Linked DNA regions of Homo sapiens: all the other regions are linked to region 1. The links come from fine-mapping of genetic effects on plasma protein levels. A gene starts in region 1. Each other region holds a variant in brackets. All regions are shown on one strand. Distances are from middle to middle.

Evidence for each region. A credible set is the group of variants that fine-mapping cannot tell apart. PIP is the chance, under the fine-mapping model, that this variant and not a neighbour inherited with it causes the effect. The UK Biobank Pharma Proteomics Project read protein levels with antibody pairs (Olink). The fine-mapping took linkage between variants from a reference panel, not from the people measured, so its PIPs are less certain.
Region 2: its variant is the best candidate, but not a certain one, in a credible set for the plasma level of the SPON1 protein (UK Biobank, PIP 0.82).
Region 3: its variant is the best candidate, but not a certain one, in a credible set for the plasma level of the SPON1 protein (UK Biobank, PIP 0.50).

What each region holds. Positions count from the first base shown.
Region 1 is chr11:13,957,503-13,968,294 of GRCh38, reverse strand. SPON1 (spondin 1) reads right to left here and starts at 5,572. Exons shown (of 16, transcript NM_006108.4): 1 at 5,153-5,572. The coding sequence starts at 5,390. It overlaps LOC124902637 (a long non-coding RNA gene), which reads right to left and starts at 5,138. Exons shown (of 2, transcript XR_007062602.1): 1 at 3,250-5,138; 2 at 426-1,254. RefSeq lists an enhancer at 1,769-2,287.
Region 2 is chr11:14,021,018-14,031,809 of GRCh38, reverse strand. All of the region lies in intron 2 of SPON1 (spondin 1), which reads right to left. Among named protein-coding and RNA genes, the nearest start is that of SPON1, 64 kb to the right of the region's middle. RefSeq lists an enhancer at 9,618-10,125. The variant G/A (reference allele first, on the strand shown) is at 4,877.
Region 3 is chr11:13,995,208-14,005,999 of GRCh38, reverse strand. The region is part of intron 2 of SPON1 (spondin 1); the gene reads right to left. Among named protein-coding and RNA genes, the nearest start is that of SPON1, 38 kb to the right of the region's middle. The variant A/G (reference allele first, on the strand shown) is at 5,908.

The DNA of each region.
Region 1 (10,792 bases):
GCCTCCCATCATGCTGGATCTCCCATTTACCTCTTGTTTAAAACACTGTGTTTTGGATTCTGTTAGTAACATGAGCTTAGCCTGTACTATGACTAATATAACATGGTAAGAGTCCCCCCACCTCACAACAGAAATTGATATTGACCTATATATATGTGACAGTCTGTATAACAAGCAAATGGACAGTGTGAGAGTGAAAAGCTCCTGATATACCAGCCCATAGTGGTAAACGTATCAGTGATTATAGCTTCTTGATGCAACTGAAAGAGTCAGCTGTAATGAAACAGCTTATCTGTGTATGGGGGAGTACTCAAGTTTTAAACCTTGAAAAATTCCATTTTGATATGCTTTTTTGTATGTTTTTATTTCTTTCATTTCCTAAAACTCAGAGCAATAAACAATCTCCACAACCATTAAGCATTAGCTATGTTTGCATTTTCTAATTTTTATTATCAGTTTGAACTAAATACTTAAGTAATGGTTAGAAATAGTTACATAACAAAAAAGCAGGGAATGGTGCAAAAAAGGGAAGAGAGGTAGGAGGGGTGGCTTAATTATAATATCATCAGCAGCACTTAAGTTTTTAAAAACTCCACCATCCAGGAAATAGTTTATTTAAAAGACCTCATCTTGTGTAAATTTCTTAGAGCCTAAATATGTCCTTTCCAAACATATAATTTTACAGGCATGGTCATATAACATCTGTATGTAAAAACAAAACAACAGTCAAATCTGTTTTTTCTTTTTTTTTTTTTCTTTCTGGGTTTTTTTTTTCCTATCCAATTTGTTTTTGTTTCCCCACAAACAAAAGGAATTGGCCAAAGGCTGACAAGGTTCTTCATGTTTCTAAATTAATCCTCTAGTTTATGGGGAAATGCAACACTGAAGCCAATAAGAGAAAACAGCAAATGTGAATAAGGATTTATCACTTTATATTACTTTGTAGTAATATAAAGTAATTCTCCTGAGAGATGTCAGTTACTATCTTGATTTGTTGTTCTGTTTTCCTTGAAGGAAGGCTCACCATCCAGAAGGCTGAGGGTAGCTGAGTGAATTTCATTCTATTCCCAACTAATTTCATTGAGTCAGCACATAAGACTGGTTAAGAGCACAGATTTAGGAGTCAGACAGACCTGAGACTGTATCCTGATTCTGCTGATTATTAGCTGTGTGACCATGGATAAGGAATAAACTTCTCTGAGGTTTAGTCTTCTCATCCATAAAACAGTAACGATCAGAAACTTCCTCAAAGTACTGTAAGGAATAAGTGAGATGAGTCGGAAGAACTTAACACAATATCTTATCCAGGGCTTTGCTGCTAAGTATTTTTCTATTTCCAAAATAATCATCTCATAACATATTTTTTTAGCAACCACTGTGTGACAATTTCTTTTGACATGAATTATTTCTAATTCTCACAGGAATGCTGGGAAAAAATCAAAACACCCTCATTTTACAGATGGAGAAATTGGCTCAGAGAGGTGAAGTGGCTTCCTGAGATCACACAGTGAATATGTGACCAAGGAGGACCTGAAACCAACCCACCCAACATCAAAGCCTGTGCGCTTTCCACCAGGCTGAGGTGTCCACCCCTGTGGTCAGTGTGTGTCTCAGTGTGGGACAAAGGAAAAACCATGCAGCTTTGGAGGTCTCCAAACCTCCCAGTTTAGGATAAACCCCTCAATTATGCTTGAAGTTGGACCAGCTTTTGAAACCTCTACTGGACATTCTTTTCCCATCAAGTTCCTTGAAATGTCTCTTTAAAATACATCTAGGAAAAGCCACTCTCATTAGCCAGAGTCTGACTTTATTTTCCTAATAAACAGACCTCCAGTAAGACAAAAGAGCCTCTTTTATTTTCAATCAATTCTTGAATATTTCAGTGGATTTTCTTCTGTTTGGCTTGAAATTGTGATCTGGGAAAGGCTGGTCCTGCGAATTGTCCTCCTGTATAAGGGAAGCCCCTTGAGGATCCTCAACTTGTTATTTTTAATCACTGTAATCTCCTTTTCAAAGGAGGCCCTGGCCAGAAACAGAGCAGGCCTTTCAGAGCTTTCTAAAGCACAATTATTGCCGTTGGAGGGAGGGGGGACTGTGGGAAGAGGGAGGGAGAGTAGAGAGAAGTGGTGGGAAAGAAAAGGAAATCAATATAATACTAACAACTTGGAAAAGACAAAATAATGATCTCAACTGGATTCAGGTTTTGGGGAAGAAACTCCATGTTTCAGTCTTTTTTAATAGTGACCATTTTATTCCGGTCTAGAGTACCTAAAGACTGTACTTAGACAGCAGGCACAAAGAACAGAAGCTGCTTGGGGATGAACTGGAATACTGTGGACAAAGATTTGAGGCAGGAAAACAAGTCATTGATTCCAAGGATTGTGAGGAATCCTAATTCATGAAAAAATTAAAAAGCAAATAGAACACCAGGGGAATGCCAGCTTCACAGCCTTAAGTCAGGACAATGAGCAGAATGTGTTTGAGTTACTTTTAACATAATTATTCTAAGAAAGAAGGAGCCAACAGAAAATGTCACAAACTAGGCCAGTACCTTTTCTTTCGGACTTTGAGTGGCAGAATCAGGTTTGCTAATTGCAGGATATTTACTTGGAAAACCTCAGCATGGTTCCTGCAAGATCTCTTCCAAGGTCTTTTAGCCATAAGAAGGGAGAAAAGATGATTGCCCAATCTATAGCCTGAGTTGGGGTGTCAAAGTCCAGATGGCTGTTTAGGCAGGAGTAGCCTGTAGGGTGAAAGTCCAGGACACTCCCTATCCAGTCCCAGTTCCCCACCTGCTGGCCCTGGACGTTTAGGTAGTTCTGAAACCTCTTTGGCCCCGTGAATACCAGCTGTATCTCCTTCCCAGTGCTAGGGCCACCAGCTGCCAATGCTCAACTAAAACACGGAGGATTAGTGTGAAAAGAGACGCTGGGTACACTTGGCCTGAACCTCAGACTAGTCTAAGTCACTGAAAAAATCTTCCTGGGCTTGCATTAGCAACAGTCTTAGGCAAGGCTCCTGATATGAAAAAATACCTCATTCATTCATTCAATTAATTCATGAGGACCCAAATAACCACTGGTAGATGAATGGGACTGGAGGAGAGCTGAGGAAACCTGCTTTCAAACGCACAACACTCTTCAAAAACAAAAATCTGATCAAGAACCTACCTCCATTAGTAAACCAATAAAGGCCTCACATTCAACTGTTAGGCTTATTAGGAATCTCTTTTAGCTCAGGCACACTCACCTTTGTAAACTCATTTACTCCCTACCACCAAGAGAGGGTGGATAAACAGCTTTTTTTTTTTTCCAGCTAGGAAATAGGTGCAGAGAAATTAAATGACTTGCACAAGGTCACACAGCGAGTAAACCCAAGTCTGTTGGACTCCAGAGCCACTTCTTTCTCTGCTACGTGGAGCGGGGACAGTTTCCCCTGTGAACTCAGGTCCTCAGTTTTGGGGAGGGCCGAATAGGCCACTGAAGTCATACCCGCTTCCCTGCGGTCCACAGGGAGGATCGGCCGCCTCCCGGCTGCACCGAGTGGCAGTCGCCGCCCGTCGGCGCGGCTCGCTCTAGCCGCGGTGCCAAGCCGCGCGCTCCCTCCCGGGCTGGGCGGGGTGTTCTCCGCCCAGAATCTTTCTTCGTGGAGTACCCAGGATCCCGCGGAGCTGCGCGCCGGGGTCAGACTGTTCCTCGCAAAGTGCTCAGCACGCCAAGGTGCCAAGGGCACCAAGGAGCCGGCTTTGGGTAGCTCCGGGTGGAGAAAGTCGGGGACACAAACCCGGGAAAGGGGGAAAAGCGCTCCAAGAAGGGTGGCCCCTGGCTTTGGTCTCCGGCGTGACCCTGGCGCCCGCTGACGCTGCCCCAGACTTTCTCCTGTGTTGCTCCCACCGCTTCCGTCCAAGGCTCTCTGGGGAACTGGGAAGGCGAGGAGGAAAGTACAGCAGCTGGGAGCCCATTTGCCCCACCAGGTGCCCCAGTGACCCGCTCATCCCTGCTTAGCACCAGAGCTGACTTATGAAGGGGCGAGGGTGAGAGGACACGCTCCCTGGCGGGAGCTAAGGTGAGGCCAGACAGGCTCGCTTCCCTTCCTGGTTACCTGTCCCCCACCCGGAGAGCGGCTGCTGCTGCACGGGGAAACGATGTCTGGGGAGATGACCCTGCTGAGGAGCGAGGTGGCGGGCGTGGGGACAGAGTCAGGCGTCTTCAGATCGGTGCTGGTCGAACTGCCTGTCCCGCCTAGGAGGCTCTCACCTGCTTGGACACCTCCTCCCTGAGCTCCCGAAACCCCACTCTCAGCCGAGCGGCGTAGGCGCGACATCCCTGGGACGTGGAGACTCCGAGCTGCCGGAGCCAAGGTTCCCCGGCCTCCAGGGAGCAGGCCTCGGGCATCGGGGCTTCTCTTTCCATCTTCATCCAATTCCCCTTGCAGCTCGGAGCTTACCCCAAGCTCTTTGAGGACCCTGTCCCCACTGGGAACCTGTTCTGGAAACCCAAGATACTCTATCTCGTCTGGGACCACGAGAGAATAATTTGGGGTTCTTTCCAAGGACCCTTTCGAGGAGCTTTAGGCTGTCCCTGCCCCTCCTTCCCGCACCCCGGGACCGGTTAGGGAGAAGCCAAAGTCCCTTCTCCTGAAGGGACCTATCCAGGGAAGCCGGAGTGGCTGTCCCGCCCAGGGCCAGTCTTTGAGAATCGGGTACCCTCTCCTTCAGGGACTGAGCGGGGAAAGCTGGAGTGGCTGCCTTGCCCGGGACCCGACCAAGAGAAGCCTGGGTCCCCTCCAGACCGATTTGGAGAAAGGCAGTTTTACTTCCCTCCTGCAGACGGCCGGGGGAGAAGCGAGCCTCCCTTGCAGTCAGGCCGGCGTGACGTGTGGCTCAGTTACATCCTCCGCCTGGGAACCGCGCGTCGGAAACGCGGGGTGCCTCTCCTGGCTGCGGCCCCCGCGACGGCCCGGGACGCTGGATTATGATCCGCGCCGAGCTCGCGACTGCAAGGGCCGAGGGCAGCCAGGACAGAAGGGCCCTTGCCGGGCTGCACCCGCGCCACGCGCCCGGAGACCGCGCGCCCTCCTCCGGCACCGCGAGGTCGGCGCCCTCCGGGGACCGGGTCCCGCTCTCCTAATGCCACGCCGGGCGGCCACTTACCGCGGTAGCTGGTTCCCGGCTTGTAGAAGTCGGGGTCGCCCTCCACGCGGAGGCTGAACTCGGTGTAGCCCTCGCGCCGCGTGCCCTGGGCGCGCAGGATACGGCTGCAGTAGCCCTCTGACTTGGGCACTTTGTCCAGGGTCTCGTCGGAGAAGGCCAGCGCCGCGGCCAGGGGCAGCGCCAGGGCCAGCAGTGCCGGAGTCCGGCTCAGCTTCAGGGGCGCCGGGGACAGCCTCATCTTCGCGGCCCCCAACTTTGTGCCGCGGCCGCAGGCCTTCGCCACGCGACTCCTGCCCGAAGTGGTCCCGACGAAGGCGCGACCTGGCGGAGGCGCGGCGGAGAGAGGGAGCTCGGAGCTGGCGTCCGCGACTCGGAGACCGTGCCCGCCTCGGCTTGGCGGCCGCGGAGCTGCGCTGAGCTGAGCTGAGCTGAGCCAAGCGAACGAGAGCAGCGCGAGGAGGGGAGGGCCGCGGCGAAGGAGCGGGAGGAGGGAGGGCTGATTTTGCCCAGATCCCCCAGCGCAGCGCTGTTTTGTTTCCTCCGAACTGGCGATTAGCGGCGCGGCCGTGTTTATTTTGCGACGTTGGATTCCCAGGGTCTGACGAAGAAACCGTGGCATACCGGACCCTGTGGGCTCTGTCCCATCGCCTAGGAGGCTGCTGCTCCAACCCCCAGCTACACTCCGGACCCTCTGGAGGACGGCGCTCAGAGGAGGGAAAGCCTGAGAAATAACTTTTGTTGCACACCTGCTCTGTGCCTAGCAATATGCTTGGCGGCTTACTTACTGTATCGACTCGCCTTCATGTTCCCTACTCCCAATAAAGATTACATTACTTTCGCTCACTTTATAGATGAGCAAACTGTGACTTGCGACCAGTTACAGCAGGGTTAGATGCGGCGACTCCGGGCCCATTGCTCTTCCCAAGGCCATAGTGGAACATGTCAGACTGGAGGCTGAGAAAGGAGAAACGACTTAGCTACAGCGCTTAGGGCCCACGATACTTTTGGAGATCTATGAAAATGTTTTCTGTAAAAATCAGAAGAAAAAATTTATGTCAAACAAAATGTTTTACTATATAATGTTAATATATTTGTATTTATACCTCCACAGTCATAAAATATGCTTGACTTGGAGGAAAGAGCCAGCAAAGGCAAAAGTGCCTAAGGCTCAGGAAGGTCCTCCTACAGCCCAGGAAAGGAGTTTCCAAAGATTCAATGAAGAGCCTGTGTTTTCTTGGCTTACATTTTAGTTCAGATTCTCACTCCCCAGGGACAGATGTTCAGAGAGGTGCTGAGCCTGAGGGCCTGAAGGGAAAAGACCTGGGGCAAGAATCTCTCCCAGTGTCTCTCTGGGAAGAGACCCGAATCAAACCTCAGTCCTGCCACTCACCCATTGTGAAGCTTGGGCTAGTTATCGCACTCTCCAAGCTTGTTTCCTGCTCTGGAGAACAAGGAAGTGGGGGTGGGTGCCAGTACATCCTTCTTAGAGGTAGTGGGGTGATATGCTAGAAGTAAATGATATGACCCATATAAAACACTCTAGTTGGTCTCTAGTGGCGCCTGCTCCCTCACCCGCTTGGGGATACCATAAGCCCCCTGCCTCTCAGTGCACACAAACATCCCTCCCCAGGTGCCCTCAGAAGCTTTGGTTTCCTCGTCTTCTCTTTGCCCAGGGCCTTCGACACACCTCAAGTGCCTACAATTAGCAAGCAATCTCCTTTGCTTTCCAGGTCAGGGTTTTCTCTTTCATAATGCTACAAACAGGCCCAGGGCGCTAGGTGCATGGGAGATCTCCATTCCTCCCTGCCTGCCCACTTACTCCTTAGTGCTTGTGCTGGAATTCCCACTGCCACTATTAACTGGACGCCTTCTCTCAGAGGTCACCTGAAAGTAACCCCTTGCTGAAGCCAATTATGCTCTTCTCTCATCCCTAGCCCTTCTTGACCCTAGCAGCACCTGATCCAGCTGATCGGCCCTCCTTTTTGAGGTGAGGCTCAGATCCATGTCTGAGTGCTGAGGGAATTGTCTGCATCTTCACTCGACTGGCTCAGAGCTCATGCTGCACTCCAAGTTGCACGGTCCCATTCATCCAGCAAACTTTCATTAAGTGTAGATTTGGAGCTAGACTCTGTGCTGACCGGTAGGTAGAAGACGGAACAAAAATTCATCCATCCATCCATCCATGCATCCTTCTATCCATCCATTCATTCATGACAAAGACCCTCCACGTGCTCAGTGCTTGGATACAAAACACAGATATGTTACTTGCCTTTGAGGATTTTACAGGCCTGTGGCAAAGGCAAATATTAAATACATAATTATATGAATCTTTTAAAATTATAATTGTGATGTATGCTACAAACTAAAATAAGTGGTTCTTGAAAGTGTACCTGATCTTATCTCAGAGGGCAGGAAACTACAGAAATGAATAAATTGTGACCCCTGTCTTCACAAAGCTTATTTTATGTCTGAAAGCTCAAATCTGTGCTCTTGAACCTCTATTCATCTACAAAAGGTTCAAATCTAAGTTGGAGATGGGTGGGCATGAAGTAGGCAGGAATGCAATATTTAACTTTTTATTGGATATTGACAGGAAAACTATGGGAAGTAGGCAGTCCCAATTCACCTCCGCACTCCCATTGTTCAGATTAGGAGCCTATGAAATTACCTGCTGAGGTAATGTTCCATGGCTATTAAGGGAAAGAGCCAGGATTTAAAACAGGCATCCCCAACACCAAATGAGGTACTTTCCAGTACACAGTGTTCGCCCTATCATCTGGGCTATGACGGCAGGCTCTAACCAGCTCACCAAGCTCCAATCCCACTACATGAGCTAGGTTTTCCTAAACCAGCTTGGCTGTCACTCAGACCTCTGCTGTCTTCTCCACTCATCCGATCCATCACCACATCAAGTTTCACGCTCTTCTCCACCACTACCCCTGTCTGTGTTGACATCCTCTCTCATCTTCCTAACTGGGTTGCCCTTGTCTACTTGTGCTCTCCTTCCATCTGTCTTCTGCACTGAAGCCCAAGTGATCTTTTTAAAAATGCAGATTTGAATGTCAATCCTGAGGTTAACATTTTTTCTTGGTGGTTTTTCAGGGCTCTCAGAATAAAGACAGAATCTTCAGCCAGGCCTCCAAGGCTCTGCTTGATCTGCTTCTCCAGCCATGCAGCTCTTCTCTCATGGGCTTTGCCTGTGCTGTTCTCTCTGCCTGGAATCCTATCATGCTCTTTGGTCTCTCCTAGCCACCACTCTCCATTGGCCAACTCCTATGTACTCTTCAGATCTCAGTGCAAAACTGCCTCCCCAAAGAAGGCCTTTCTGATTTCCTAGAATAGATCCAGCCCCCAAAACTCTGCTGAAGCTCATGAGTACCTTTTCTTTTAATCTCCTCCTCCTCCTCCTCCTTCTTCTTCCTTCTTCCTCCTCCCTCTCCTCCTCCTCCTTCTTCTTTCTCCTTTCTCCTTTCCTCTTTCTTCTTTCTTCTTGAGGCAGGGTCTTCCTATGTTGCTCAGGTTGGTCTCAAACTCTTGGGCTCAAGCAATCTTCCTGCCTCAGCCTCCCAAAGTGTTGGGACTACAGGCATGAGCCACCACACCTGGCTTCTTTTAATATTAAGATTTATAATGACCCATTGATTTATAAGTTTGATGTTTAAAATTTTACATTTGTTCAGTATTTGTCTCCATTCTAAATTCTAAGCTCCAGAAGGGTAGGGGATGTCTATGGGGCTTACCACTGTATTTTCCGTGCACATCGTAGTGCCCGGCCCCTGGTAGGGGTTCCATAAATATTTTTTCTCTGAATAAAAACTTTTTAACAAGCCTACCCTCAGTGCCTTCTGACTCTGCCCAAATTTTAAGACTTGGCCTCTAAGGCCATCCACAATCTGGTCTCACTGTGTCCATCTGGTCATGCCTGGTCATAGATCCCAATCTGAGCTCCCAGCACCACCCAGCTGGGCTCCCCGTGTCCTCCACTTCAGTATTGCCTCAGCACCTTTGCTTACAGCTTTCTCATGGCCTGGAATGCCCTCCCTCCTCCTGCCTGATTAAATTTTCCTCCATAGAATGAGATCCTGCAGTCTCCCCTCCTGTGGACTTCAGTAGAACTGAGGAGGAGAAAAAGTTTCCCATTTTGACTACTGTGGTCCAGTGGATTGTCATGAACTATTTCATGTGTCTATTTCTCATCTCCTAGCAATGAATCCAGTTTACTTTCCCCTTAATTTCCTGTTCAGATGTTTTGTTCTTTTGTAAAATATACTGGACTTCAAGAAATCTCCTTCCAGTTTTTGTAGCCTAAGGCAGAGCTGATGTCAGTTGCTAGGGTGTTGCTAAGGAAAGTCATTTAGCCAGGGCAGATAATTAACTTTATCAGTGTGTGTGGGTAGGTCGCAGAAGAGAAGAGCTGGGGGCTCCAGTTCTCCAAGGCGAGAAAAGTCCTTTGATTCATAGGAGGTAAGATCTCCCTCTTTTTTCTCCCCGCTTTAAGAGAGAAGGGGGAAAAGGATTTTCTAGATTAGTGTTTTTCTGAGTATGGTCATTGAAACATGAGCATCAGATGTTTGCTTCAAAGGCAGATTCCGAAACCTCATCCCAGACCTACTAAATCTGTACTTTGAAGAAAAACTCATACTGAAGTTTAAGGAACCGTCGTCCTAGACCGTAATTCAGACTTGAAGTACATGGGTTCCAGGCTGGCTCTTCTGTTTTCACCATGTGAAGCTGTGCAGTCTTGGAAAGTCACAGGACCTATCTACACGGATTATGTGCAAAATTGGACATAGTAATACCCATCTTGCCTACCTTGTGGGATTTTGAGAAACAAATGGGTAACTGAGATAATTTGTAAACTGCAATGAGGTCACAATAACCCCACCCAGTTATTATTGTTACTTTTATTAATTCAGAAAAAGAGTCTAGAAACTTTATGTTTTTGTTTCTCTTATATATAGAGTTAAATTGGACATTTTATAGAAAGGGATTTCTAGAGAAAGAAAACAGATAGGCAATGAAGGAGTTGAATTGCACTGAATAATCTATTGTAATCTGTGGTGAGGAGGCCTGGAAGCTGTCTACAGGTGAGCCAGCAAGTTTAAAGACTAAGTTATGGAAACTGAATACATACGTACATACGGTAAAAAAAAAAAAAAAATCCTAAAAGCAAAAGACATTCATTAATTACAAAGATATTTCTTCAGAACCTGCTGTGTTCTAGGCATCAGCCAATTATATATAATTACATTACCTTTGGAATCCTGAATCTGATTGGGCCCATCCCACAATTCCATGTAAGGTATGAGCTCCTCCGATCACCCGTCTCTCCAGTCTTTTGGTCTCCATTCAGTTTTGCCCTTCCTTCTGCTCTCTGGAGCATTCCTCTATCGATTGCCCATTGCCGTATCCAGATCAACATTCTAGTAAGTAAGAGATAATAAGAGTCCCTCCTACATTAAAACTCCCAGCATCCAATTTATACTCCTTCATCCTATCTCCATCATCTGTAGCCTCCAGGTCACTTTCCTGCAGCCACTGTGGACTCTGCAACTGGCTCTCTAGCTTCCTGCCTATTGTCTCATGCTATGGGCCTGGGAGATTAGCCTGATGAAGTCTGAGCTGACAATTTAGTCTCTG
Region 2 (10,792 bases), 64 kb before region 1:
CCATGGAAGGAAAGACAGTTGCTTTTGTCTTTTATGAAAGGGCTTTCAATATAGATTTTTTAAAATTCAGATTTTGCCCTTATTGATTTAAAAAGTAAGTTTATCATAGAAACGTTAACCAGGACAGAAAAGTAAAGGAAAAAAAAAAATCCTCCACTGTTTGAATAATTTTGGTTTGTTTCCTTCTAGCCTTTTCTCCATGTATTCTTTAAAATTTGTTAATAGCGGTACTGATTTTGTTTATATAATGTGTCTTGTTTCTTTTTCCATTTGTCCTAGGAGCCTCAATATTTTTCCAGGTTTTTCTGAACTTAACAGAAACATAATTTGAATGGCTGCATTGACTGCGTTATTCAGTGTACTTTTTGTCAGTGGCCTCTCTTCTAAACTGTAAAGATTTAGGCTTAAATCCTGTCCCTTTTCCCTACAAATACCCCCATCTTCCAGCCTAACTTTCACAAAAGTTATAGCATCCTTTTTAAAAATATATAATTTCAACTTCAGGGTGTACATGTACAGGTTTGTTACGAATGATCCCATCACCCAGGTAGTGAGCACAGTACACAAAAGGTAGTCTTTCAGACCTTTCCCCATTAATCTCTTCCTGCTCCGGTAGCCCCTGGTGTCTATCATTTCCATCTTTATGTCCATATGAATCCAGTGTTTTGCTCCCACTTACAAGTGAGAACATGTGGTATTGGTTTTCTGTTCCTGAGTTAATTTGCTTCGGATGATGGCCTCCAGCTGCATCCATATTGCTGCAAAGGATAGATTTTATTATTTATAGCTATGTAGTATTCCATGGTATATATGTACCACATTTTCTTTATCCAGTTCACCACTGACAAACACCTAAGTTGATGCCATGTCGTTGCTATTGTGAATAGTACTGTAATGAACATATGAGTGCTTATGTCTTTTTTGTAGAACAATTTATTTTCCTTTGCATATATACCCAGTAATGGGATTGCTGGAACAAATCCTAGTTCTGTTTTTAGTTCTTGGAGAAATCTCCAAACTGCTTTCCACAGTGGACAAACTAACTTACATTCCCACCTACAGTGTACAAGTGTTCCCTTTTCTCCGCAGCCTTGCTAGCATCTGTTATTTTTTGTCTTTTTAACAACAGCCATTCTGACTGCTGTTAGGTGGTGCCTCGTTGTAGTTTTGATTTGCATGTCTCTGAACTAGCATCCCTTTTTGCATTAGCATCTCTTCAAACGGATTCTTACCTCCATCTTATTCATCTTTTAAAATCTCACTTGCTTTATTTTCTCTTCCCGGGAGTGTACCCTGTGCTTTCCAGACTTGAGAAGCACGTGGGATTGTGGGGGAGGTGACGTGGCCACGAGCACCATTGGCGGACCCTCTGGCACCGGGCATGTGGCATCCAATCCACAGAAGTTTAGTCCTGAGAAACACCAGATTGCATTTCTCCCCCAAAAGCAGATTAATCCTCCATGCTATGTGAGTTGTTTCACATATTAGGAGCACAGACAGCAGGCCAGGCTTGGGAGCAAGGCTGGGCCAAGATGCGTAGGCGCCCTGGGCAGGCTAATAACCTGGCCCCCTTTCAAAACGATATTCTCTAAATATTTGCCCAACATTCATTTGGAGGATAGGCTGAGTGCTGCGTGGGAGGAGGGCAGGCAGACTGCCAGCTCAGCACTGCTCACTCTATTAACCTGAGTAGTTCAACTGCTGCCCTAAACTTGCATACCTCACCCAGCAACTAAGAGGCCTGGAAGGTCACTGAGATACCAGCTCTTGTCACTTAAGTGCTCTTGGGGGTTTTCCCCCTACCAGGAGACAATACAAAGTCCTAGGAGAGTCCAGCAGCCTATTTATTACTGGTGTGACTCTGGCAAGTTCCTTAACTTTTCTGGACTGATTCTCCTTATCTGTAAAATGGGGACTGATAATAGCATCTACCTCAATGGGCCAGAAGTGTTTATATGAATTCATATACAAAGTTGTTAGAGAAGCTTCTGGCACAAAACCAGTGGAGACAGGAGGCAGCCAAGGGTCCCCAGCAAAACTCCATATTTAAACCTAAAACAGCCTGAAGGCTGAAAAACCTGACTACACTTCCTGGATGAAGCCACCCTTTCCTGACTGATTCTTTCTGAATAACGCCCACCTGAGCACTGGGAGAATGGGGTGGAGCCTCAGGAAGTTCAGTGGGGAGGAGCCTGGCCTCTCCCGTTGCTATGTGGTGACCTGGGATTCAACGTGTGAGGCGGGAAACCTGATAGGAGGACTCTCTCACTTTGCTGAGAGTTGCTTTTCCTTTTTCCTTTTCACCCAATAAATTCTGTTTTCCTCACCATTCTGTGTCCACAAGCCTAATCTTTTCCTGATCATGTGACAAGAGCCCGGTTTTGGCTGAACTAAGGAGAAAGTTTATCAACAAAACTATCAGTGTATATTATAATCACTGTGCATTGATAAATATTATTATTATCATTCTCGTGTCCCGCTTGCTCTCAACAATTCTGGTAAAGACCATTTTCTCCACTGTATTACATTTCCAGCAGCATTTTAGTTCTCTTTACAGACTGGTATCCAGGGTACCAGCCCAGCTGGCCTGCACCTAAATCCAGTTTGGCTTGGGAGCCTCAAGTACAATGGACAGGCTCCAGTAGAACTGGGCACACACATGCTTGTGTGTGTGTGTGTGTGTGTAGGGGTCACTGCCTGAATCATGGTGTAGTCCTCAGTTAGAATAGAAAGCCTCATCTTCCAGGTGAGAATTGGAAGATGCTGAGAAAAGTAGAGACAGACTTCGGGAAAGTGGTAATTTTTCAGGGGTGGGTAATCCTCAATAAGAAAAGAGCTATCTCCTCTAGAAAAACCAGGAAGAGGAGGAGGAATTATCCTTCAAACCAGGTGAAATGTGCTCCTGGAATCCTGAGAGGTAGCATGGGGTAGTGGGGAGAGAAGATGTGGACTTTGGAGCCAGCAGACATAGGTCTGATTTCTGCCTTAGCTACTGAATGACCTTGAGTAAAGTCACCCAACTCTCTGTGAGTACACATCCTTATGTGGAAAATGGCTACACATGATGAAAGATGTCCTGTGTACAGAGCCCAGAAGGGGACCTGGAGCTGCTAGATGCTTGATGACCATGACTTTGAGTCATTGAAGTGACAATCAGAGAATGGGCCCTGGTGGCATCTTGAGTGCCTAGAGCCTAGTAGGTGATTGATGCATATACACTGAATAAGTGGGAAGATTCTCACTGGCTATATGTAAATGCCAGTGAATCTCAGAATATCTAGTGTTTAATAAGTAAATACCCTATATTCTTTTTTAAAATTTTATTTTTATTTATTTTTGAGACAGGGTCTCACTCTGTGCCCCGGCTAGAGTGAAGTGACAAGATCATAGCTCACTATAACCTTGAACTCCTGGACTCAAGCAATCCTATCTAGTAGCTAGGACCACAGGCACACGCCACCATGCCGAGGTAATATTTTTTATTTTTTATATTTTGTAGAGATGAGGTCTATGTTGCCCAGGTTGGTCTCAAACTCCTGGGTTCAAGCAATCCTCCTGCCTCAGCCTCCCAAAGAGCTGAGATTACAGGTGTGAGCCACCAAACCTGGCACAGACTCTACATTCTTGCTAACACTTTGTATCCATTATTTCAAACAATAATCCAGTGAAGTGGGAATTATCCCCATTTTACAGATTCAGAAACTGGGACTAGCAAGTAGGGGGTCTGTATTAATATCCTCCATGACCCCAAAGCTAATAACCGCTGGATTTAACACACTGTACCCTTATTTTTCACATGAGGACCTGCTGTCAGTTTTGACTCAATACTAGAAAATCACTGATAAACAGGTTTTAAAAAATAGAACCATGTAATTGGGGGATTTTATTCAATGTAGTCTAATGCCTAGGAAATAAATCAGCCTTTTAAGTTTTATATAGCAGTACAGTTGAAATGTTTAATAATTATTGCCAGAGAACAGTATAATGCAGTACTAAAAATGAGTAATTGAAAAGCCCATCAAGGCAGATGAGGCATCTTCTTACTGAATTGCTCTTGAATACTTTACATAATTACTTCATTCAGATTTATGATCAGCTCAGCAAAACATACATCTCTCTATCCTGCTCCGCCTGAGTAGTTTGGGAAGCCTTTTTATATTGTGCTTACACCTTCAGGGATGGACAAATGAATGTCTCTTATACACTAATGGGGTTTGCAATGGTTTGATTTCATTTAGCAAAGGAAAAAGGAGCAAAAACTCAGTTTGCTGAGGTCCTTCTGTGTCCCAGTCACTGTGCTGGTGGTTTATTTGTATTAACTATGTCAGCTCATTTAAAGTCCCTGACAGTCCTGAGAAGGGATGGTGTTTTCCATCTCACAGAAGCAACTGAAGCTCAGAGGAATGTTGGAACTTGATCAGATTATTGAAGCTCATGGTAAACTCATACTAGGCAGTTTGGATCCAAACCTAGTGACCTTTCCACGACATCACCAACTTCCAGAAAGACCCCGTGTGCCCCAAGAGGGCTTGGAATTTTGGAAAGAGGCATCTAGTGAGGTCAGTCGAAGAAAACTGTTCCTAGCCAGATTTTGTTTGCAGCTCTGGCTCTTTAAACATCTGAGTTGTGGATGCTCCCCACCCCTGACCCCATTCCTTCATTTCTTACAACGCCAGTGCCTCCCGGCAGAGAGAAGTCCAGACGAGTCTCCTCAAGGGATGCAGTTTCCCATGGATTCAGTCTCCCCACTCAGCCCAGATCATCCCAGGCTGCAGGCTTTATCAGAGGCACAAGCTTATCATCTTGCCTCTCCCAGAGACTGCAGAGTGGGAGTTCTTGGCAAATTCAGTTTACTGGTAAGTGTGGACAAATGGCT[G/A]CCTGGATGAGATGACAGCCTTTGTTTCTGGTCTCACTTACATGTCAAAAGAGCCAAAAATGGGAAAAATGGGGAGAGAGGAGGAGACAAGTTGGGGTAACCTCACAGGCAGGAGAAATAATATAATCCCTTTAAAACATTTTACAATGCATTGAGAAGATTATACATAGAAGAGAAGGACTCTCCAACTCTCCTCCACCCTCGCTTAAGACAATGACATTTCCAGCAGACTGATTTTTCTTTCTCAACCTCCCTGTTATCCTTTCCTTAACCCTGAAGCTTGTTGTATTCTCTGCGTAAGTCAGCAGACATCGGCATGGGATCAAAACTGTTTGTGCACCCCGTTTCCCCCACCCCCTCGCCTTGAGAATAAACTCAGGCTCTGCTGAGGGTTATTTCAGAAGAGACTTAAACAAGTCACTGAATATCTTCCTTCTTTAGGACGTAAAAGCATGTCAGATTTCCCTCTTGTTTTAGAGTGACAATGGCAGACATCATGCACAGATGTATATCTTACTGAATATGGTACACATCCATGAACTTCCTTACACCCTTGGGAAATACCAAACTTTGATCTAATTATATTTTGACAATAAGAATCTCTCATCAAGTTATAGATTTATGGTAACACTCAAGGACTATTTGTCAAACACATCCAATGTGGTTATCAGCTGGTGGGTACTGAGCACTTACTTGCAAAACAAATCAAATATCTGAAGAGAATGCATTTTGTCTTTGTGCACCTGAAGGTGGAGGGTTGGGGGGAATACACTGATCAAATCATGCAGCAAAGAGAGCATTTCCCTCTGCTGTAGGGAGGCAATTGAGCTGGAAGCTGTGGGAAGGGAGCCGGAGGCTGGCTCCTGCCTTGCAGAGAAGCAGTGGACATGAGATGGATGACAGGAGGAAGCTCTTTCAGATAATTATTAGGAGCTGGAGAATCAGCTGTTGTGCTGTCAGTATGGTGTATTGTAGGATAAAGAACATAACAGGAAGGGAGTGGGGCTGGAAAGAACAAAGAGAGAGAAACAGGCAAAGGAACAATGGCATAGTTCTTGTCTCTGACCACGGACTATGGTCCACCTCTGTTACCCCTTTTACCCTCAGAGCAACCTCTGGGGGCTCTGGCCTTCCCAGACACTGCTCCCACTTCTTGTTCCTGGACTAGTCCTACTCATGGTCTCACCTGATGAGTCACTTCCTCTGGGAAGCATTTCCCAGCCCCAAGAACCCAGGTCTGATAGGCTGCACCCTCCACCTGCCAAACCACCACCCGCATGACCCTTTATCTTTGCCTCTCCAGCACTTCTTCACCCCACCCCTATAAGAACCACCTGGAAGGTTTGTGAAAATAGTGATGCCTAGCCCCACCCCAGAGCAGTGGAATCGACAGCTCCAGGCATGGGGCCAGGGCAGCAGTGACCTCCTAAGGGCTTCAGGTGATTTTGATGGACATTTAAGATGACAACCATCTTGCCTCTAGTTCGTCATATCTGAAAGCAGGGGCTGGTTCTACCTTGCTTACTTTTGGGTCACCAGCACCTAGCATTGTGCCTGGCACATCATATATACTTGATCAATATTTGTAGAATGAATAAATGAATTAATTAAAATTAAAGAGGTATTGCTACTCCCTTTTTAGAGAAGAGGAAATCGATTCATGAAGGCAAACTAGGTGGACTGCCATGGTAGTCTCAGAAGAGTCTGTAAGAGGAGGAATGAGAATGTAAGCTCCATGGGGGCAGGAGCCTTGTCTGTTTTATTTGACTGTGTTCCCGGTGCCTAGACTTGGGTCTGACATGGAACAGGAGCTTGGTACATGTTTGCTGAATAAATGACTGCACCCCCAGTCTCTTACTTTAAAACTCAATCTCTTCCCACTCTAGTTTGCTACCAGCCCTGCCTCTGCCATTATCTCTGTGGCTTTGCCCAAGTCACTTTTTCTCTCTAGAGATCAGTTTCCTAAAATGAGGAATTCAGATGATATGGCCTCCAGATTCTTTTCAGTTCTAATCATAGCAGACTGCCCTGATATACCTATATTGTCACTTGAAGGATGCAACTCCAGCTGTTATGCCAGCACCTTCCACACACACCAATGTCCTCACATTTCTCAGTGATGCGGAAGTAGGGCAGGGAAGCCCTGGGTAGAGAAGAGTGGGGTCCCTGGCAGGGGCTCCACCCTTGGGCCTGTGCCCATGGACCTAAGAGAGAACAGGCACTCTTGTTTTTGTGCCCAAATGTTGCATTTTCCAAGACCACTCTGGCCAGCCATGCCCCCCATCCTGTGCCCATATAAACCCGAGACCTTAGCAGGCACACACACAAGCGGCTAGACATCGGAGGAGCAGAGGACCACACCAGCAGACACTGGCAGACCAGCGATGGTGGAACAATGCGGACTCTGAGGGGAGTTCAGCCAGGGGCCATCAGAGGACAGTCTGCCACTGGGTAGCCTGACTCCAGGGGAAGACCACCTTCCCACTCCATCCCTCTTCTGGCCCCCCATCCATCTTGCTGAGCGCCACCTCCACCACTCAACAGAACCTTGCACCAAGCCCACCTGTGATCAAATTTTTCTGGTACACTGGGCAAGAACTCAGGATACAGAAAGCCCTCTGCTCTTGCGATAAGGCAGAGGGTCTACTTGAGCTGATTAACACAAGCCACCTGCAGATGGCAAAGCAGAAAGAGCACACTGTAACACACACCCACTGGGGCTTCAAGAGTCGTAAGCACTCACCCCAAGATACTGCCGTGGGGTTGAAGCCCAAAAGTGCTCCCCATGACCTCTGCACCTGTCCATCTGCATTCTCCCTTTAGGGGTTTGAGTACTAGGGCACTGAAGCAGCCAAGCCATACCACTGTCACATGCCTTGTGAGGGAGATAAGGTCCCCAAATTGCTCCTTCCAGTCTTTTTTTTTTTTCTTTGAGATGGAGTCTCGCACTGTCACCGAGGCTGGAGTGCAGTGGCCCAATCTTGGCTCACTCCAACCTCGGCCTCCCGGGTTCAAGTGATTCTCCTGCCTCAGCCTCCCAAGTAGCTGGGATTACAGGCGCCCACCACTACGCCCAGCTAATTTTTGTTTTCTTAGTAGAGATGGGGTTTCACCATGTTGGTCAGGCCGGTCTTGCACTCTTGACCTCATGATCTGCCCACCTCAGCCTCCCAAAGTGCTGGGATTACAGGCGTGAGCCACCGCACCTGGCCCAGTCTTTTTTCCATACTGCTCTTCCCTCCTTTCCTGCTTCCTGCTTCTATTATTTCTTCCTTTCGCAAGTGTTCCCAGTTGGCAGGCTGTGATCTGCAAAAGCTGACCTCCATCTCCCAGTCAGCCCACCTCCAAAGAACAAATCCATAGCTGAGAAAATGTGGTTATTAATTTATCATCTCCCTATATCCAATTCCAGAGAAAAACATCACTTTGTTGATATAGTTGTAGCACGAAGAGAGGGAACTTGTGTTGTTAATTATCTACTACACACTTGGCACTTCATTTATGTTATTTCATTTAAGCCTCACCTTTGACTGCCTGTCAGTTTTACCTTCACAGTATTTCTCTCCAGCACCCTAAAGCACCCAAACTCAATAAACCACTGCAACAACCTTCTAACTTATCTCTCTGCTTCCATACTTAGCCCCTACAATCCAATCTTCCCACAGAAGCCAGAGCGCACATTTAAAATAATAAATCATGTCACTTCCCTGTTTAAAGACTTCCAGTGGCTTTCCATTACACTTAAAATCCAAACTTTATAATGCCAGCTTGCAATTCCCCACCTAATCTGGTCCCTGCCAACTTCTCAGGCATCATCTCCTGCCACCATTTGTCTCACCCACCGAGCTCCAGTTCCTTAAACAAGCAGAGCTCCCTCCACCTCAGAGCCTTGGATGGTTCCCTTTGGCTGTCGTCATCCTACATGATCCCGCCCACAAACCTTAAGGAGTTAGGAAGGAAAAGAGGGAGGAACAAATTTAGATATGCCTGAGGCTTCCGTGGCAGCTGGTTTTCCAGTTGAACCTACATGAACCTGCTTTTAACCCTACTCCTCACCTTTGTCTTCTCAGCGTGCAGGTGGTTGCAGCAACTCAAAGCGTTCTTTGGATAAAGTCGAATGTATGGGCAAAATGTGGGTAAAGAACCCAAAACATTGCCTTCTCTTCCCTATGAAAAGGTTTCAGTAATTCATTGCTTGATTTTTTAGATGAACAGGGAAGAAAAGCTTAACTTTGAGGGAAAGAAGCTAAAGTTTATTGAGCTATGCAGCAGCCCTTTTAACATGATTTGGTTGAATCAGCTGAACAATCCACTGAAACAGGTTTTATAATCCCCATTTTATAGAGGAGGAAACAGATTCAGAGGATTTCAGCAATTTCCTGAGGACCACACGACTGTACTAATGAACAGAGCCAATATTCCACCCGGTCATATTTAGATCCCAAATCTCAAGCTCTCTTCTGCCATATCATCTTGCTTTGCTAAGTGTATCCTTTCTTCCCAGCAAAACAACCTCAGAGTAAACATCAATGTATGAGTAAGTAATGACTAAGATATAAAAGTGAGAACAGATTATTTGCCAGAAGCACATTCGAATCCTCCATTTACCTGTGCTAATTGTAATATGTTAACAACAGGCTGCTCTTAAAGATTCATTAAACTGAATCCCCTGAGGACCTGTACTTGGGAGCTCAGCTGGCTGATATTCTGAATTCCTAAATGCACTTAAAAATAACCAAATGTCTTTTCTCCCAAAGCATTTAATAGTATAGAATAGTAACCAATTCATAACGACCCTCTGCTCAATTATTGCTTTTTTTGGCTTTTTCTTTTATTCTTCCAAACGGTAAGGTCAAACTTCAACAGCATCACCTGCTGAGTCCCTCACTGGGCTCTCTTTCTGGATGTGTGTTGCCAGGAGAACAATTCTGCTTTCAACAATAAAAACAACAATCAATGCTTGCACAAAAGACTTAAGGACAATGGGAAATGTGGGTGAGTTAATTACATCCCTGGTCCCTTTGTTCTTTACAAATAAAGAGCAAGAGCGATGGGTGATCAGTGAACTTTAGAGACGCAAGCCATTGAATTGTGCTTAAGAGAACTGGGTTTCTTAGGAGTCAAATGAATGGACATCCTCTGAAAACAACTTCGTGTGTATCAGAAATCTACAATGTTCAGTCCTTGGAAGAAGGAGCCAGCACTAGAGCAGGAATTGGGAAACACAGGGCAGGGTCGTCTCAGGTCTTGTAGGAACTTGGAGAACTCCTCCTTCCAGGGCCTTGGGTTTTCTGAAGTTGAAATGACTCAATGGCACCAAAATGCCCTGCAATTCTAAAATGTGATTTGGCTCTCAGATTCAGCCTGTTTGGGAAGTGCTGAACAAAACCAGGGACTGGATCCTGGTGCTTTGGGGCTTGTTTTCCCTCTTCTTCCTCAGGTTTTGCAACCTGAGCTGTTTCAGAAGCTGAGGCATTCATACTGAAGACCAATATACAACCCTCAGCCCTGACTTCTGCTTCATTTCTGCAGCCTTGTCCCTGAGGTCTACCCGGGGACTTGTTGGTGCAGAACTACTGCATCTTTGAACTCTTGGCCTATGGAATTTCCTTCTAAACACAACTTACTATTTTTTCATACACTCATTCAACACATATTTATCATCTGCTTGTAATATGCCAGATATTATGATATACTGTGGTGAACAAAACAGAAATGGTAGCTTCCCTCCTGTGGCTTATAATTGGCCAGGTGAATAAGACATTAAATGCCTTGTTTTAAAGGTAAAAAATACAAATAGGTATAAAGTAGAAAGTGAATTGTGCCCAGGATTTTACCTCCCAGATAAAACCACCTGTTGGATCATTATATCGTGATATTCTGTAACCTCATTTCTTTCTCTTAACATCTTATAAA
Region 3 (10,792 bases), 38 kb before region 1:
CATCATGTTAATTGATTTTCCTAGGATGATCTCATTTGATTCACCCTCCAAAGTGGGTAATATTATTATTCCCCTTTTCCAAGCAGGAAGAAACCGAGCCTTAGAGAGGTCATAGAGCAGAATTGTAGATTCAGGATTTGAACCCAGGTCTCTCAGGCTCTAGAGTTGAACTTTCAACAGTCTATAACATTCTATTGAATGACCCTAAGTCCAGAAGCCCTTTGTGCATAGCCTGAAGGCATTGAGATCAGAATTATGAATGTTATAATAATACTTAGCAACTTACTATGTGCCAAGGACTCTAATGATCATCTTTACAGCTTTGACATCTTTATTATTTGTTTTTCAGACAGAGAAACAAAGGTTAAAAGAGTTAAAGTTACACAGCAAGAGTAGAACAGGGGCTTACATTCCCTCTGTCTAATTTGAAAAGCCCCAGGCTTAATTTACCTTAATTTAGCCCAGGGTCTAGAACATCAAAGTGGGCCACAAATCTCAACGTGGAGCATGAATGGGAGTCATTATCACGCAGATGGTACTCAAAGCCATGGAACGGATGAGTCTAATTGTGCAGAGAAAGGACAGAAAAGGTTACAGGACAGAGTTTGGAGAGTGCATCATTTAGAGAAGCAGATCTCAATGGGGATGATCTTGTTCTCTAGGGGACATCAGAATCAGACAATATCTGGAAACATTTTTGGTTATCACAACTGGTGGGGCCAGGGGCCAGGGGTGCTGCCAACCATCCCAGAGGACACAGGGCAGCTGCCAACAACAAAGAATTATCTGGCTCAGAAATCATAAATCTCCTAGAAGAGAAAATAGCAGAAAACCTCCTCAACATTGGCCTTTGTAATAATTTTTTTGGATATCACACCAACAGTTCATGCTACAAAAATAAAATAAATAAATGGAACTACATGAAACTAAAAACCTTCTTCACAGCAAAGGAAACAAACAACAAAATGAAAAGGCATAGCCTGGGCAACACAGTGAGACTCCATCTCTAAAAAAATTTTTTTTAAATCATCCAGACATAGTGGCATGCACCTGTAGTCCCAACTACTCAGGAGACCCAGGCAGGAGGATCACTTGAGCCCAGGAGTTTGGGGCTGCAGTGAGCTATTATTATGCCACTGCACTCCAGCCTGGGTGACAGAGTGAGACCCTGTCTCACACAGAAAAAAGAAAGAAAGAAAAGGAAAACTACGAACTGAAAAAACAAACAAACAAAAAACTGCATTTCACATATCTGATAAGGAGTTAATATCTAAAATTTGTAAATAACTGTTAAAACTCAATAGCAGAAAAACAAAAAAACCCAACTAAAAAATGGGCAAATAACCTGAACAGACATTTTTTCCAAAGACAATATAAAAATGGCCAACAGGTATATGAAAAGGTGTTCAACATCATTAATCATCAGGGAAATGCAAATTAAAACCACTATAAGATATTATCTCACATCCATAAGGATAGCTATTATCAAAAAGACAAGAGATAGCAAATGTTGGTAAGGGTCTGGAGAAAAGGTAACCCTGTATGCTGTTGATGGAAACGTAGATTGGTATAGCCATGGTGGAAAATGGTATGGAGGTTCCTCAACTAAAAATAAACTATCATATGATACAGCAATCCGACTTCTGGGTATTTACCTAGAGGAGATAAACTCACTACCTCATAAAGACACCTGTGGACCCATGTTCATTGCAACATTATTAACAATAGCCAGGATATGGAAACGACCTAAATGTCCATGTTCATTTGGGAAAAGAAAATGTAGGAAATGTACAAATGGGGAAAGAACATGTACACGTGTGTGTGTGTGTATGTGTGTGTGTGTGTCTGTGTGTGTAATGGAATATTATTCAGCCTAGAACAGAAAGAGATCTTGCCATTCTCCACAACAAAGATGGACCTGGAAGACATTATGCTAAGTGAAGTAAGCCAGAAAGAGAAAGAAAAATATTGCATGATCTCTCTTATATGTGAAACATTTTTTTAAAAAAAGAGCTCAAATATGCAGAGATAGATAAGGGAGTGATTATCAAAGGGGGTAGAGAAGGAAAAAATAGGAAGATGTAAGTCAAAGGATACAAAATAACAGTTATATAGGATGAACAAGTCTAGAGATCTAATGTATAGCATGAGGATGAAAAATTGTATTACGGATTTTGGTTAAGTAGATTTTAGTTGCCCTTGTCACAAAAAAAGTAACTATGTGCAATGATGGATGTTAACCTACTTCACTGCAGTAACCATTTTACTATCTATATATATATCATTATGTATACTATCTATACATAACATTATGTTGTAAACCTCAAATATGGCCCAAATGCCAATAGTGCTTATGTAGGTCCCTTCAGCTCTCCCGCTTTCTTTCTGTGTCTTGATAGAAAATCACAGAGTGCCTTGACCACTCTGTGACCCAGCCAAATGTGGGTTATTCCCAGCAGGCTTAATCCCAAACTGGGGCCTTGAACATTCCCAGACACTGACAAAGGTATCTAGATTGTTGCCTAAAACACTGAAAGAAACTGGCCCCATCCCTGAGCCAAACTCCTTAAACCCTCATAAAAACTCCATACCCTGGACCCCTCACTGCATTTGTGCCTGGGCAGAACATCCCTTTTCTCTCGCTGTTCGGTGCAGGGATCACTGCAGCACTTCTGTAAGTAAGTTCCCCTAATAAATGTTTTGGACTGATCTCACTGGTGCTTAGTGCTCCTTTCTTTGGAATCCCAACCAGCCCCACTTCAGGATAGTGTGTTGCACTTTCTTGTGTGGGAACTCCCCTGCTGCCACTTTTTGGGGCAAAATACATAAAACCAGAAAGACATGAGAAGAGAATATTCTAGGAATCAGGGAGTGGTCAGCTCCCTCTGCGATACTGAGGAATGTGTGCAAGATGATGGAGTGTGCACGGACAACGCGGAGGCCATTGCAGAAACTGTCAAGACTCAAGAGCCATTTTGGTGGGGGTCGAGAAGTGAACAACAGCAGAGAAGTGGGTAAAACATGTGTAGGCACAACTCTCTTGAAGTGCTTGGCTGTCGAGGTGGGGCAGAGAAATGAGGTAGTGGTTGGAGGAGATGTGGGGTCCTAGGACTTTGGGGTTTTTTAAAAAAATTATAGGTAGATAGTAGAGGTACTATCTTCCTGGCCAACTTGAACCCCTGACCAGCTTTCTCAACAGTGCCCTGGTTCCCTGATTCTCTCTCCCCTTGGTGGATGCCTGTGCCCCCTATCTTCTACTGTGTTTGGGGTTTTCCAGTTCTGGGAAAACTGTACCATCTGTCTGCTTGGCTCCTGCCACCAGGCTCTTGGGAGTTGATGAAGAAAGTTACAAATCCAATCTCAAAGTCTCCTCTAGGAATATGTGTTTTCTAAACTGGGTCTCTGCTGCTACACGATCCTTCCATCCATCTCTCATGGACTCCCTACCACATTCCTCCTGCACTTGCTCCATCTCCCCAGTCTTCAGCCCTGTCCTTTCCCTCTGCAGATCAGCTTGCCTCTGTCTACTTGAAAAACATTTGTTGACTGTGTTTCAGGTCAGTCACTAATCAACATGCTTATGTGTTTCTTAAGGTGCTCTTTGGGGCACTTGTGTCAGATTCACATAAGATGCTTATAAAAGATGCAGGGTCCGCAGCCCCAGTTCCTCACCCCCTTAGGTGCACAGAATCAGATTCTCTGACTTGGGGCCCAGAGAGATGAATTACAAACAAGTATCCAGGAGATTCTGATGTTCATTACCAGTTGAAAACCATTGTTATAAATTATTTAATTTTCTCAGTAATTCTATAAGGAAGATATTACTATTAAAGTCAGAATTATATGGAGGGCATCCTGTGTAATCCTATCTACTCTCACTTTCCTTCTTGTTCATCAAATTGTTGTATATTTTTACCAGTTTTGCTTGTTTTCCCCATGTCAAGAAAGATGTCCTCCCTCCTGTGCCTGATCATGACTAAGTCCTGTTTAAACAGTTGCCTTTGATTCAACTCTTCTTCCCTCCTCTGATATGTTGATCAATTAATAATAGTAATTATGACTACCATTTATTGATCACTTAGTATGAACCAACTACTTACCATAATAGCCCTTTTATTATTTCATCTAATCTTCAAATATTTCTTCTATTCTTTTCTCTATTTGTCTGATATTCCCATTATACGTATGTTACATCTTTTGTAATTTTCCTGCAGTTCTTGGTTATTATGTTTGTTTGTCATTCTTTCTTCTCATTTTTGTCTTTGGTTTTCCCTAGAAACTCCTTCTTAAGTAGAGGTTATGCCTTGCAGCCCTCTCTGTTGTAATCCACTGTTGTTATACTGAGCCTTGTTGATGTAATGGTAACATATTGGGAAAGGGTAACGGTCTATCTTTTGATTAAATCTCAATATTTTATTGGGGCAGAATCTTTGTGTGTGGTCTTCAGAAAAGTTTCTTAGCCTTTTTTTACTTCCTTTATATGAGACAGGAAGGCTAGACAGGGCTGGACCTGGCTAATTGTTCTTTCTTCGGATCAGATAAGACTCTGGTAAAGTAGTTTCCTTGAGGGCAGACCTTGTTAGGGAGAAGCATCTGGCCAGATTTCAAAAAGGTTCTTTTTCCCTTCCCATGCCTCAAGCTGGAGGAGATTTCTCTGATTTTCACCGTGAGAACCTGATGAGGGCTCCTGGGGTTAAAATTCACAAAAGTGTGGGAGTCCCTTCAGGATTGGGCTCCCAGGAGTTTAACTCTCCAAGCAGTCTACACTCAGCCTGTAGCTAGTCATCAGTTAGCCTTTAAGTCCTCCTACCATTTACTGTTTCCAGCAGCTCCTGAGAATCTGTGATTTTCAGTATTCACTTGTCTCTCCATTTCTTGGGGGGTGGAGGAGGAAGGAGGTGGCGAAGGTTTGCCTCATGACCTCAGTTCTCTGATGGAAGTAATTAGAGTTGTTGATTTTCAGTTTTTCAGCTTTTTTTCATATGAGGACAGGAGTGATGATTTCTAAGCTCTTCACATGTCACAGTAGACATTAGAAGTTCTTATACAACTCTTCGACTTAGTATTACTCCAATTTTGACAGGCAAGGAAACAAACTCAGCAAGTTTAAATTAAGTGGCCAAGCTTATATAGTTAATGAGGGGTGGAGTGGCTATGTTGTCACTAAAATGGTAAAATTGGGATTCAGGTAAAACCCAATGCTAGGGCCCAGAAAGGCAGCCACATAAGTACAAGCTGTTTTGGAGGGGCCAGGGGGTGTGTGGCTGTGCATGTGATGCACATGTATCTTCATATTGGTCCATGTGAAGAAGTCCTGAGGGTGTCAGCTGACTTTGGGGGGAAAATGGGCTGAGGGTGGGGGCCAGAATCCTTATCAATACCATAAGTCAGTGTCATTTCATGATGAAAAAACAACTTGTTTCTTAGGCTGATTTCAAAAAAGCACACCCAATAAATTGGCAGCTATATATTAAACACCTATTATGTGCCAGGCCCTATTATAGTGCTGAACAGATGCAGTGCTGAACAAAGCAATACCCTTGTGGAGTTCACATTGCAGTAGGGGTAATAGCTAATAAGCAATCAAGCATATAACATGTCTGGGGCTGATAAGTCAGATGAATAAAATAAAGGAAGGCAAATGGGGTTTAGAATGATGAGGGTATTGCTTTATAAAATATGGTCAGAAATGGACTCTGATAAAAGTGACATTTGAGCAGAAACCGGAAAGAAGTGAGGGAGGGAGTTTTGTGGCTACCTGAGAGCATCCCAGGTAGAGGGATGAGGAAATAGAGTTTTTGAGGCATATATCCATGCCTAGGGAGACAGACCTGTTCACTCTGCAGATGACATAATGCTGTGAAGACAGTGATCAACCATGGCGGATAAAAGATGTCTAACATAGAA[A/G]AACCTTGGAATGCTAGAGAGATGAACCATGTTGAATAATTAATTTGTCAGGGCAAAAATCTAAGGTATTGAACTTTATTCCAAAGAGGTAATTTTATGAGAACAGGATTTGCAAGATCTGTTTAGTAACCACCTGGTAGAAGGATGGGAACTTACTTCCTCCAGCCAAACTTACTTCCTCCAGCCAACACCCAGTCCTCCTGAACACAAAGGACTATAGGACATAAGGTACCAGCTGGGGGCCAACTGGAGAGAAAGTTTGTGTCCAAGGGAAAAACCAAGACAAAGTAACTTGGCAAAGGTTATATACTCTCTAAAAGCAAGCTCTGAGTCAGATTCCTACTCAAACTCCTACTTGGTCAGGTGTGATAGAAAGTGATATAGCAGGCCAGGCGCGGTGGCTCACACCTGTAATCCCAGCACTTTGGGAGGCTGAGGTGGGCAGATCACCTGAGGTCAGGAGTTCAAAACCAGCTTGGCCAACATGGCGAAACCCCCATCTCTACTAAATATACAAAAGTTAGCCAGGTGTGATGGCGGGTGCCTGTAGTCCCAGCTACTCAGGAGGCTGAGGCAGGAGAATTGCTTGAACACGGGAGGTGGAAGTTGCAGTGAGCTGAGATCATGCCACTGCATCCAGCAAGATGCCATCTCAAAAAAAAAAAAAAGAAAGAAAATGATACAGCAATGTGTATCAAGAGCCTAAAAACTCTTTGATCCAGAAACATGGGACTGTATCTCATGGAAATGATCTAAAATATAGAAGTATAATGTCCAAAGGGGTAGGGATTTTTGTCTGTTATGTCAGCTATATCCTCAGAGCCTAGAACATGCCTTACACACGACAGTGTCATTTATATACTCATAAATGAAATAAGAGGGTTTTCTTTATACGAATGTATACTGCTAAATTATTTATAGTATTAAAAATTCTCTAAATATCCTACAATAGGATACTGTTTCAGTAAACTATGACCCATTTACTCTTTAGATTTTACCTGTTTTAAAAAACAAACACAACGGCTTTAAGTGTTTGCAAAACCAGAATTAAGAGCTATCCCATAAAGTAGTTAGATCTGGAATGGAGGCTCATCACTCTCATTTTAAAGATGAGAGGATTGCAAGGCCACAGGAACTTATTGGCTTTTTAAAAAACTACTTAATAGATACATGAAAAAGTTCTTTTTTGCATAAAAGTTATGTATTGTCTATTAAAGAAGTCTATCATGTATTTGAAAATGATTTCTAGACCTTTAGAAAATAGATGTGGAAACAATGCTAGTTCCATGCAAGAAAGTAGGAGACCAATTAACGTTTGCAAACAAGTGGGTAAGGCCAGCAATTCCAGCAGCAGATATCCATCAATTTGGAAAGCACTTATCACCTGGCCAGTGTGCCAGGCCTTGGTGAGGCCAGGGGAGTACAGGGGTGGCCACAGGAATACAGAGACAGACATGGCCCAGTTGTCTGCCTCTTTGCAGAATCTTGTAGGGGAATGGGAATTTAACTCATCAGGGTAACACAGTGAGCGAAGAACTAGAACAAAGGGATGTGCCAAGTGTTTGAGATCTCAGAGAGGAGGCAGGGTGCACAGATTCCAAATGGGATGAAAGGAAAATGTGAATGTCAGGAAAGACAGAAGAGATGGCATTTCAAAGGCCTGGAAGAGACCTGGTGGATCTGTGAAGCTGTAAACCTGGTATGACCCCTGGAATAACCCAGAAAGGATTTTAGGGGTTTAGCAGTAAATTTCTGTCTTGTCTCTCCCATACATCTCTCCCCAGAGCTGTAAGAGATGCAGAATAGAGAAAATGACACAGGCCTTTGGTGGCTTAGTCTTTGTTCACTGCCACTTACTGGCTCTGTGCCATCGATCAATGCTCTGATTCCCTCAGTGTTAACTTTCCTGTGAATGGGAATAATAATAAGAGTGCCTACTTCATGGGTGTGTATGTGGGCAGGCAGTGGAATCTGAGTTGAAGAGGGGTTAATACATTTATTTATGTGACTAATATTTACTCAGCTTTGATTATGTGTTCAGCATGGCACCCAGCACTGTGTGTGTTGTTGTGAAAGAAAGATGTCTCTGCTCTCATGGAACTTCCAGCCAAGAGGAAGAAAGTTAAAGTATACGAAGCAACTAGAATAGTATCTAGTGTGGTTTCCGCTATCCATTCATACCTCTGGTGCGGAGCCTTTTGCCAAGGTATAATTTAAATTCCATTTTTGGTGAAGCTGCTATATGGAAGTAGTTCATAAAACCAGCAATTGAGAGCCCAGCCAACCACCCACATTGAACAGATTTTGTTTGCGCATCATGTATCCATAGCATAAATTTTTCATTTTATTTTACAGCGATCCCAATCCTATTACAATAAAGATAGAATGAACTAGAGAAGACTGTCTCTCTCCTCACCTGTGGAGTTGGAAAGATAGCTAGTAGTTACACCTTTGACAAGATTCAGATGTGCTCCTTAGTGGTCCACAAATGCCCAAATCTACAGAGGAATGGAGTTTATGATTCACTGTAAACAGAAATGTGGAAAATGCACCCTAGGCTGCTGGCTCAGAAGTAGGAGGCATTGATTGAGGGTCCCTTATGTCCAGGCACTGTGTTGGGCATTTTACATACATTATTTTATTTTGATCATTTTTATTTTGTAGATGAAGGGACTAAGTAAGTTTCAGATAAATTCAGAGACTTCTTGACTTAGCTAGTAGGGCAGAATTTGACTCCTAGTCCAATGATCTAATGATTCCAAAACCCAAAGTCTTTCCACATACTCGCTGTATATTTTAAATAGCAAAGCTAAGCTAGATGCATGGTCCTTTCTGAGTAGTTAGAGCAGCCTGAAAATAGGAATACTTTCTACTGTGATGCTAACCTGTGTGCCCACCACTGACACTGTCAAAACCCAAACGGCTGCCTCCAGAAATAGAGCTCATATATACATATACATGTGTGCATACATACATGTGAGTATGTACAGAGAGAGAAACTTTACTTTGACCCTATAATTTCATTTATCATAAGCAAATACAGATGCATAAAACTTTGCTTTTATCATAAGCAAATACAGGTGCAAAGATTTATGTGTTACGGTGTTCACTGCAGTGTTTTATATAAAAGTAAAGAAAAGAAAATTAGAACCACCTATCTTGCCAATAATAGAGGAATCTTCGAATAAATTATAATTCAACAGTATGATGGAGTATTACAAAGCCATTAAAAATCATGTGGAACATTTAATTTCATTGAAATATGTTCACAATATAATGTTCCCATAAAAATAAAACAGGATATAAAACCCTATATAGAGAATGGTTCCAATATTCTGTTCAAAAATTATATATATAGGTGTGTGTGTATATATATATATACACACATAGGTGTGTTTTCTATATAATATATAACCTGGAAGGAAATATACCCAAATGTTAATGATTATCTCTAGATTATAAAATGACATATTTTTATTTCTTTTTTATCTTTCTCTGTATTTATCCTTTTCTGTATTTTATAACACAAAACACAAGTGTGCTCTGTTGAGAGGAGTGATGCTTAAGTCTTAATAATACCTCTGGTTCCCAGACTCAGGCTTTCTTGCTGGGAAGGAAAATGATTTTTCATCTTTTCTGGCAGCAGGCACTAGAGACCAGGGCTGCAGAAGTGTGAGGACCCAATGTCCATTCCAGGCACTCACAGTGCACATTGCTTCTTGTGCTTCTTACAAATGACTTTTCACACGGCAATTTTAAGCAAGAAAACTAAGTGTTAAGCAAGAGGTGTTGACATCGCTTTTAAAATGTGTTGTTTGTGCATTATAGCTCTGCAGAGGCATTTTACACCAAGTGAGCTCCTCAAGGGAAGGGGAAGGGACAGAATGTCATTTATCCCCTGGTTCATTTCTTATTAAAAAAAAAAAACTTTTACTAGGCCCTTGTGAGGCTCTAGGTGCTTGTTAAAGAAGATATAGTAAAACATTAAAATATGGCAAATTTTAAAATAGAGGTGTGAGGCAAAAATAGAGTGGTCTTCACACACACTCTTCACTCCTTGTCCAGTTGAAATTTCAACGACTCTAAGAGATAGCTCAAAGGTTATTGTCTCTGTAAATGTCCTTTCTGTGCTCCCAAATCAGCACTCACTACCCACTTTCTGCAAATGATTGTTTTCTTATTTGCACAGATGCAGCAATTTTAGCATCTAGCAGGCTGCAATATGGTTCTTTCTAACAGGTCTCTTGACTCCATGTCACATATAGAAAATGGTAATATTTCCCTAGGGTAAACAGAGGAGGCCACCCTAATATCTAGGGAAATACACATCTGGGTTCTCCTTCAACCTATCTGTGATCCACCAGTGTACATAAAATACTGAACTGGGAAGTTCTTCTGTAGACTTTGACCTCCTAATACCAGGGGCCATGATATGGTTTGGCTCTGTGTCCCTACCCAAATCTCATCTCAAATTTTAATCCCCATGTGTAGGGGAGGGACCTGGTGGGAGGTGATTGGATCATGGGGGCGGTTTTCTCCATGCTGTTCTCGTGATAAGTGAGTCAGGTCTCACGAGAGCTGATGGTTTTAAAGTGTGGCACTTTGTTGTCTTGCTCTCTCTCTCCAGCCACCTTATGAAGAAGGTGACTGCTCCCCCTTTGCCTTCTACCATGATTGTAAGTTTCCTGAGGCCTCCCCAGCTATGCAGAACTGTGAGTCAATTAAACCTCTTTGTTTATAAACTACCCAGTCTCAGGTAGTATCTTTATAGCAGTGTGAAAACAGACTAACATACCATGTCTTATTTATTCATCTCCATATCACAGAGCCTAGTATGTTGCATTTTGCATAGCTGGTCATTAGTGCATTCATTAATTCATGTCAG